2 separate regions of the Homo sapiens genome follow, and region 2 is linked to region 1. Evidence: fine-mapped expression QTL. Tissue or cell type: whole blood. Region 1 holds a variant in brackets; the other region holds the start of a gene. All regions are shown on one strand. Distances are from middle to middle.

What was found. PIP is the estimated chance that this variant, and not a neighbour inherited with it, causes the effect.
Region 2: it holds the start of MLLT3, and the variant in region 1 is fine-mapped to the expression of MLLT3 in whole blood (TOPMed, PIP above 0.99).

Annotation. Positions count from the first base shown.
Region 1 is chr9:20,298,249-20,302,599 of GRCh38, reverse strand. It overlaps a transcript of SLC24A2 not described here. Among named protein-coding and RNA genes, the nearest start is that of MIR4473, 110 kb to the left of the region's middle. RefSeq lists an enhancer at 1-533. The variant C/T (reference allele first, on the strand shown) is at 1,928.
Region 2 is chr9:20,620,441-20,624,613 of GRCh38, reverse strand. It overlaps MLLT3 (MLLT3 super elongation complex subunit), which reads left to right and starts at 2,115. Exons shown (of 11, transcript NM_004529.4): 1 at 2,115-2,369; 2 at 3,780-3,960. The coding sequence starts at 2,358. RefSeq lists silencers at 1,517-1,656, 1,677-2,136, 2,557-2,706, 2,777-2,826, 4,047-4,166 and an enhancer at 3,757-3,886.

The sequences.
Region 1 (4,351 bases):
ACTCAACACCAAAATATGAAAATAACCTGATTAGAAAATAAGCCAAAGATCTCAACAGACACCTCACCACATAAGATATACAGATGGCAAATAAGCATATGAAAAGAAGTTCCACATCACTGTCATTAGGGAAATGCAAATCAAAACAATGAGATACCATTACATACCTATTAGAATGACCAAAGCCCAGAACACTGACAACACTAAATGCTGACAAGGATGGGAAGCAACAGGAGCTCTCATTGATTGCTGGTGTGGGTGCAAAATATAACAGTATGGCCATTTGGGAAGACGGTTTGCCAGTTTCTTACAAAACTAAAAATATGCTTACCATACAGCCCAGCAACTGAGCTCCTTGGTAGCTACCCAAAGGAGCTGAAAATTGTACAAAAACCTACACACAGATGTTAATAGCAGCTTTATTCAGAATTGCCAAAAACTTGGAAACAGGATATCTTTCCATAGGTGAATAGATAAATAAACGGTGGTATGTCCATGCAATGGAATATTATTCAGCGTTAAAAGTAAATGAGCTGTCAAGCCATGAGGAAACTTAAATGCATATTACTAAGTGAAAGAAGTGAGTTGTAAAGTCTATATAGTGTATGATTCCAACTCTATGACATTCCGGAAAAGGCAAAACTGTGAAGACAGTAAAAAGACCAATGGTTGCCAGGGTTTAGCGAGGAGGGAGAGGTGAATAGGCAGAGTACAGAGGGGTTTTAGGGCAGTGAAAGTACTCTGAATGATACTATAATAGTGGATACCTGTCATTAATACATTTGTTCTGACCCACAGAATGTACAACACCAAGAGTGAACCCTAATGTAAACCATGGACTTTGAGTGATTATGATGTGTCAACATTGGCTGACAGTTGTAACAAATGTACCACGCTGGTGGGGGATGTTGATAATGGAGGAGGCTCTGCATGTGGGGGTGCATGGAGTATATTGGAAATCTCTGTACCTTCCTCTCAATTTTGCTGTAAACCTAAAACTGCTTGAAAAAAAAAAAAGGCTTTAATTTCTTTTAAAGTCTTCATCTCTTACTATGATACCCTGAGCATTTCCCCCAATGTCTTTAAGGGAAAAGAAGCTGGAAATAAAAGGGTAAATGTGTGGTAATGACAGCTTTGTGAAAGTATACACATAGAAGGGGAGAAATGCAGCAAAGTCATGTCTAGGTGGTAGGGTTATGGTTAAAATAATTATTTTCTTTTACATTTTTTCCAAGGTTTTCAAGATTGAACCTATACCATTTTTATAATAAGAAAAAAAAATGTACTCCCCAGACAACAATGGATGTGAAGCAATTGCCAGTCTTCAGCCTGTGAGACAAAGGGGGACTAAGAGCATGTTTACTTGCTTGGAAGGTAGGACTTTTAACCAATGTTTCTTTCACCTGCCAAAGGCTGAGAAGCCAAGAAGATACTGGAGGTAGAGCAAAGTGTGTGCCTTTGTGTTTTTGCTCTTGTTTGCTTGGGGAGCAATGTGCCTTTGTGGCCTCTTCAGGTGGGAGAAGAGGTAGAGGAAGAGCTCCTCCAGTTTTTAATCCCCTCATCTAATCACCAGACCTTTCTTGTGGTTTTCCTGGGACTCTTTTTACTCAATGGATGGATTGACACTGTTTGTGTGTGTATGTTGTACTTGGATTATGCCTTAATGTGTCACGATGATGACAAAAGGGTTTGCAACAGCAGGCAGGCAAATGTCCCTGCTTTTAATAGAAAGCACATTCCAGCACTTTATATTATCTGTAACACATAGAGCTGCTTAGAACAAAGCATTGCCCCTAAGACATGGTCCCCAAGAGTCTTTAATAAGTTCCAGACCTCTGTGAAGGTATTAATTAAATATTTTAAATAGAATGACTTTAGCTGGCTGGGGCATTTTTATGAGAGAAGGGAGTATATTTAAAACCAGGGC[C/T]GTTTCTGTAACAGGAGCTTGTTTTGAAGGAAATGTTCTTGGGTGGGGACTCTATGGGTACCAGGCTGTCAAATCTATGGGCCAACTTGATGTCAAAAACAGACATTCTGGATGTTTCAAACAATATTTGAATTGGGTCCTTGCTGCAGAATTTGGACATAATTCTGAAGCATGATTTTAACACAAAGGGGAGAATAGTAAGAGTCTATGGGTATACCAGGCACTGTTAGAGGTAGTTTCTCACAATAGTTCCATGAGAAGGGCTTTGACAAGGCCATTTTATAGAAAACAAACAAACAAAACCTAAGTGACTATTTTTCAAAGTCACAAAGTTTGATGGAGGAGCTCAATTAAAGTCTGTCCAATAAACTCAAAGTCTGTCCAATAACTAAAAGATATAATTGGATTGTTTTTAACACAAAGGATAAATGCTCAAGGGGATAGATACCCCATTTTCCAAGATGTAATTACCATACATGGCATGCCTGTATCAAAACACTTCATGTACCCCATAAATACATATATACCTACTATGTATCCATAAAAATTTTAAAAAAGTCTGTCTGCCCATCTATCCAACCATCATCTGTGTATTTACATATGCATTTTTCTACCTATCCATCTTCTATATTTCAGAATACTTTACTCTTTCTCAGGAAGTACTAGAAATAAAGATAAGCTTAAAAAGCAGATCCTGGTCCAATTGATAGACATTTCCTGAATTCAAAGTCATCAGAGTTATTGAATACTGTGTAGAGTCTAGAAGCACAGAGTTAGCTGATTTTTCTAGAAGGCAGCATGATGTAGTGAAAAGAGCAATGCACTTGGAATAAGAGGTCCAAGTTTGGATCCTGGCTCTGCCACTTATGGATATCTGTGACATCGAGCAAGTTTCTCCCTGAACGAGTTTCTTTGTCTCCAAAATTAGAATTGCATTTAGCATAGTGCCTAGTAGGTGACCAGGGAAGGCAAGTTAAACCTGAATTTGGTCCTAGTAGTGGGGGTAAGGAATAGGGAGAGGATTGTCCTTGAGTCCTTCATGGATCACTCTGGGTCTTCAGGAATCAGCAGTCCAATGGATTCATAAGGAACCTCCCCTTCCTGGCTAATGATAGCCAAAGTAACAAACTGGGGTAGAGTCACTCCCAAATGAGACATTGGAGCCCCCTCAAGGGAGTGATCATGTTCGATGGGCATCACAAGCATGGCAGGAAATGATTGATGCTGCTTTGGCTTCTTCCTGGATTCACTTCATTCCAGAGCCTGTCAATCCACTTCTTGGCATGAACAGCCCTTCTTGGGACCACCCTTAGTGTATTCCCACCTGCTCGAGAGCTCTATCCTTCTTCATGTCCCCAAGCTCCTTTCCCACATGCTATGTTGCCTCATACATGGAACCTTTGAATCCCTAAATAAAATAGGTATTCACATCTGTGAAGATCCTTTGTGACCTGGGACCCAGGGCTGTGTGCACGAAAGGGCTAATTTTTATTATTCCTTTAATGGGCCTGCCCTGCCTGCTCCTGCTCCCTCTCTATGAATCTTCAGAAGCCTCCAAGCTTTCCCATCTAGCCATTCTTGCTTATTTATCTCAAGACCTCAAATTGTCCTTCTCTGCTTTATTTGGGGAATGACTCTATGGGACTGTTGTATATACATCCCGACCCCCAAACCATCTCTCAGACCCTCCATGGCCGCATGTCCTCTAGGATCCTCCCTGTTCAGCACAGGTCTGTAGATGAGCTATTAAGAACTTAGAGTCATATGAGCCTCAGTCTGCCCCAACTAGCTGAGTGGGCTCTAGTAAGGAGAAGGGCAAAGGAAATGAAGAGCATAGGGGATAACTCACTACCTTTTTACCTCTCTCCTGCTGCTCAACTCTCTTGCCTCAGATCCTCATTTCTAAAATGAAGATAGTAGTTGTATCTTCCTCAGTGCTGTTTGGAAAGATTAAATGACTTAGTACATACAAAGCACTTAGTGTAGTGTTTAGCCCACAGGCTGCTGCTATTACTATTATGGCTGCTAATAGAAATCATTGGAAACATGATGATTTGAGATAGAACATTGTATATTAGGAAGAACGTATCTAGTTTTAAATCTAAGCTCTCTCACTTTAGTGTGTATGAAAATTAGTCTTTCTGGACCGGGTGCGGTGGCTCACGCCTGTAATCCCAGCACTTTGGGAGGCCGAGGCAGGCCGATCACCTGAGGTCAGGAGTTCAAGACCAGCCAGGCCAACGTGATGAAACCCCGTCTCTACTAAAAATATAAAAATTAGCTGGGCATGGTGGCGCGTGCCTGTAATCCTGGCTACTTGGGAGGCCAAGGCAGGAGAATCGCTTGAACCTGGAAGGTGGAGGTACAGTGAGCCGAGATAGCTCTGCTGCACTCCAGCCTGGGTGGCAAGAGTAAGACTCCATC
Region 2 (4,173 bases), 320 kb before region 1:
TTACTAATGGCACGTCCAGATAACCTTTAGTTTCCAATACTATTATTACAAAGGACTGCTCTCAAATTTGATTATTTTATGAAAAGTTTAATAATGCACAATAAATAGGTCCCCCCTTCACGTAGATACTACCCACACAGCTTGTCTCTGCGAATATAAACGTAGTCCTTGTACATACATACAGACACAGCGACGCATATACCTACAGGATGATATGCAGTTATGTATATGTGTGTCAGTTGACAAATCTAAGCCCTTGGATTTAGATTAAAATGTTTCTACCTTCAGTCGTTTGCTCCATTCTATGCTAAATCCTGTAGAAGGCTGGGAAGAACTGGGGACCTCAAGCCAAAGAAGTTTCTTGATTATAACTGACAGGCAGCGGAATATCAGTTTTAGGGAATCAAAAGTTGAGTTGGAAGGCTGCTGGTTTGGAAACTAAGGTTGGTTCCAAGTGGTCCGACCTGATTCCCAGGATCTTTGTGAGAGCTGCTGGGAGAACTGAAAATTAACAGCGAGGACACAGGACGCCCTAGGTAACGTCCTCCCCGCTATTCTGCTCTTCTCAATTCAAGGGCCGAGACAACTTGCTTTTGTGGAAAAGGGAAGTAAAGGGAAAAGAGGAAAGCAAGGAAGTTCAGTCAGAAAGAGGAAGAGGGACAAAGAGGAAAGAAAGGGACAAAGAGGAAAGAAAGGGACAAAGAGGAAAGAAAGAGGGACAAAGAGGAAAGGCAAGGAGAAGAGAAGGAAAAATCAAGGTTCAGCAAGAAGTTGGAAGGCGAGGGAAAAAGGGGAGTAAAGAGAAGGCAAAAGAGGTCTAAGGGCTAGGAAGATGCAAGGATCTTTTTTTAACGAACCAAAGTCACATCCATCTTTCACTTTCAAATCAATCGTCTAGATCTTATCCGTTTCCTTTTTAAAGGTTATCTGCGTCTGTAAAGGAAGCCAGTAGTTGATACTCCTCTCCGCGCCCCACGCGTGGCCGCGCTGTTCTATCTCCGGCCACTGAGATCAAATACAACGCGAGTGAGAACATTTGCAGAGGCGCGACTCTGGGAACACTCCTGCGACTGGCTGTCACCCGGGAGTCTAACCGGATTAATACTCAGAGATGGATTACGCTGGTTGTCACCAATACGCCTAAAGATTATAATCCAATTTACGCACATTACAGTCAGTATTAACTTTATCTGCTATTTTAAGACTCCCGGTTGCCCCGCGCGTCCTCAGAGGACAATCCTCCACGTTCTGATGCAACTCAGTAGGCTGTCAGGAGGGGAAGCCCCCCGAAGAAAACAACTCCAAGCCTGGTCCCCGAGGGTCTGTACCCGGCACTCCCAGGTGTCTTGCTTTCACCTGGGCACCGCTTTATGAAGCTTCCCAGCCGGGGATTACCAAAGCGGAAGGCGTTCCCTTGCAAGGAAATAGCATCCTTGTTTCTCCCTTGTTCATTTCATTTTCAAATTTTCGGTGGCGGTGGCAGAAGGGCGGGGAGTGAGGGTGGCGGGCGGGTGCCTGTGAGTGGATGGGGCAGGGGGCCAGGGGATCGTTGCGGGTTAGAACAGCCTCAGTCATTGCTATTTTCATGCTCGTTTTTTGCAGGATGGCATTTCTCTCGCTCTCTTTAAGTAAGTTTGTTTGGGTGTGAGTTCTTGTCTTTTCAGCACAAAACCACAGAAATACGTGGTGGAAAGTAAAAGAAAGCCCACTCCCTCCTCCCCGTGCGTACTAGCTAAGGACTTGATTTAACACCCCCTCTCCGGCTGCTGAGGGCTCTAAGCAGTGGCTACATTCCAGCAGTTTTAATCCGTTTTTTATTGTAGGGCGAGCAGAGTTTACACAGGGGCTGGGATGGCTCCCCAGCTGGCCGCTCTCCCCACTCCTGCGTCCCCTCCCTGCCACCCCCCCAGCAGGAACCTGTTACTTTAAGCGAGGCTTTCCAGTGTGGCGCTGCGGGCCGCCGGGGTTTCGGGAGGTGGCAGGTGATTGGCTCTTTCGAGCTCCCCCTGGCTCGCTCGCTCTGCCTCCCCGCGCGCTCCGCCCCGCCCGCAAGCCCTCCCTCCGCCCTGTGAGGCTCGGAGCCCGGGTGTCAGGCGCCACGGCGCATGCTCCGCAATCATCTTCTTTACCCTGGAGCTGCTGCTGCTGCTGCTGCTTTTGCTTTTGGGGCTGAGTTTAATAAGCGAGCGAGCGAGCAAGCGAGCGCGGGGGGAAAAAGGCAGAGAATGTCCGCCATCTACCCTCCGCTCCTGGGCGCGCTCTCATTCATAGCAGCCTCTTCATGAATTACAGCTGAGGGGGGGCGGAGGAGGGGGGGGTACCACACAACACCCCAGCAAACCTCCGGGCCCCCAGGCATGGCTAGCTCGGTAAGTACGCGCAAAAATAATAATAAAAGCCCTCCCCCACTTTCCTTCCTCGCCCTGCGCCGCCGCAGCCCAGACAGCGCCAGCGCTCCGCGGTTCCAATTAGAGAAAGGTTGGTACGGCTTGCAGGGAGCTGCCGCCTCTCCCTCAGCCTCCGCTCCCCTCCTCCCCCACCCCCCCCCGGCGCGCACACAGACACACAGACACACACACACTCACACACGCTCACACTCGCCCCTCCACCCCCCGCGCCTCCCTCCCTCCTCGCCTCTTTGCAGTCACAAGAAGCGCACTCACACACTCCCTCTCGCTCACACGCGCGCACTCACACACACACACACACACGGTGGAAGGAGGCGAATAATAACTCAGCCATATTTCAGCCGCCGCCGCCGGGAGCTGCGGGCACAGTCCGGGGACGCGGCGAGCAGCCTCGGCGGCCGCACCTCCGCAAAGCGCCGCGGCCGCTACGATGGTGCGTTCTCCGCGGCGCGCGTGTGTGAGCCGAAGTGTGCGGGGCTGACAGCGGCGGGGCCGCACGCAACTTTGCCCCAGCGCCGGGAGGTGCTGAGCGCGAGCCGAGGCTCGGCGGCTGTCCGCCCGCCGCCCTGCCTTTCTGAATTTCATTTTTTGGGGGGAGGTGGGAGATACTTTGGAGCCACTTGGGCTCTTGAAAGTGTGTTGCGGGGGCTCGGTTCGACTGGCCTCGCCGATCGCGTGGGGCTTTTCGCTGGGGGGTGCGGGGTGCTCTAAGTTATGGATGCCTCGGCGTGTTTTCCTGCGGGCGTGTGTGTGTGTTTCAGTGTGTATGACGACGTCTCATTTTTGTTGTGCACGAACCCCGTGGCAAGAGCACGGGAGTTTGTGCCCATCAGCAGAGGCTGCCTGTAGTTTCCATTTCGCCTGGCACAGCGCTCCACACGCACGCACACACACGTACACAAAGACTTCCTCGGCGTGTGCCTGTCGCCGCGGTACTTTCGGGGAGGGGGCTCGCCAGGAGCCCTTCGGTCCCCCTGGGTCCCAGCCACCTCCCCTCCCACGCCGGGAAACCGCCCCGGCATCGCCTTCTGATTTGTTTCCGATGCATTTGTTGTCGTGCTTGTCGTGGCTGAGTGTGTTCTCCCTCTTTTCCCCGACCCCCTTCCCGACTGGGGATAACATTCCGTTACAATCCTGTCCGATGTAGATGCGGGGCCCGGGGCGCCTGGGGCCAAGCCGGGCCGGGCGGGCGGGTATATTTGGGGGTGTGGAGTGTGCGCGCCCACGCGCGTGAAACGTGGATGCAGAGGGCACCGCCGTTTCCTTTTATGTGCGTTTCAAGAAGGAGGAAAAAAATGTCAGGCGCAACGTTCACTGCCGAAACCTCGCCTTCCTGTTATTCACGGCTGTCTCTCCTCCCCCTGCCCGCAGTGTGCCGTGCAGGTGAAGCTGGAGCTGGGGCACCGCGCCCAGGTGAGGAAAAAACCCACCGTGGAGGGCTTCACCCACGACTGGATGGTGTTCGTACGCGGTCCGGAGCACAGTAACATACAGCACTTTGTGGAGAAAGTCGTCTTCCACTTGCACGAAAGCTTTCCTAGGCCAAAAAGAGGTAGGGCTCGAATACAAAAGGGTCTTGATAAAAAATGTCTTTGAAACAATCGCTTGGCCCGGGCGGTCCCGCTGTCCCGCTCCCCGCCCCCCGCGCCGCGCTCGCCGGCGTAGCCTCGGGATCCGGGTGCGCGGCGCCGCGCGGGCCAGGTCCCGGCTCCCGCCTGCCCGCGCGCGCGCCACTTCGGCTTGGTGAAAGTCACCGCAGAGAAAG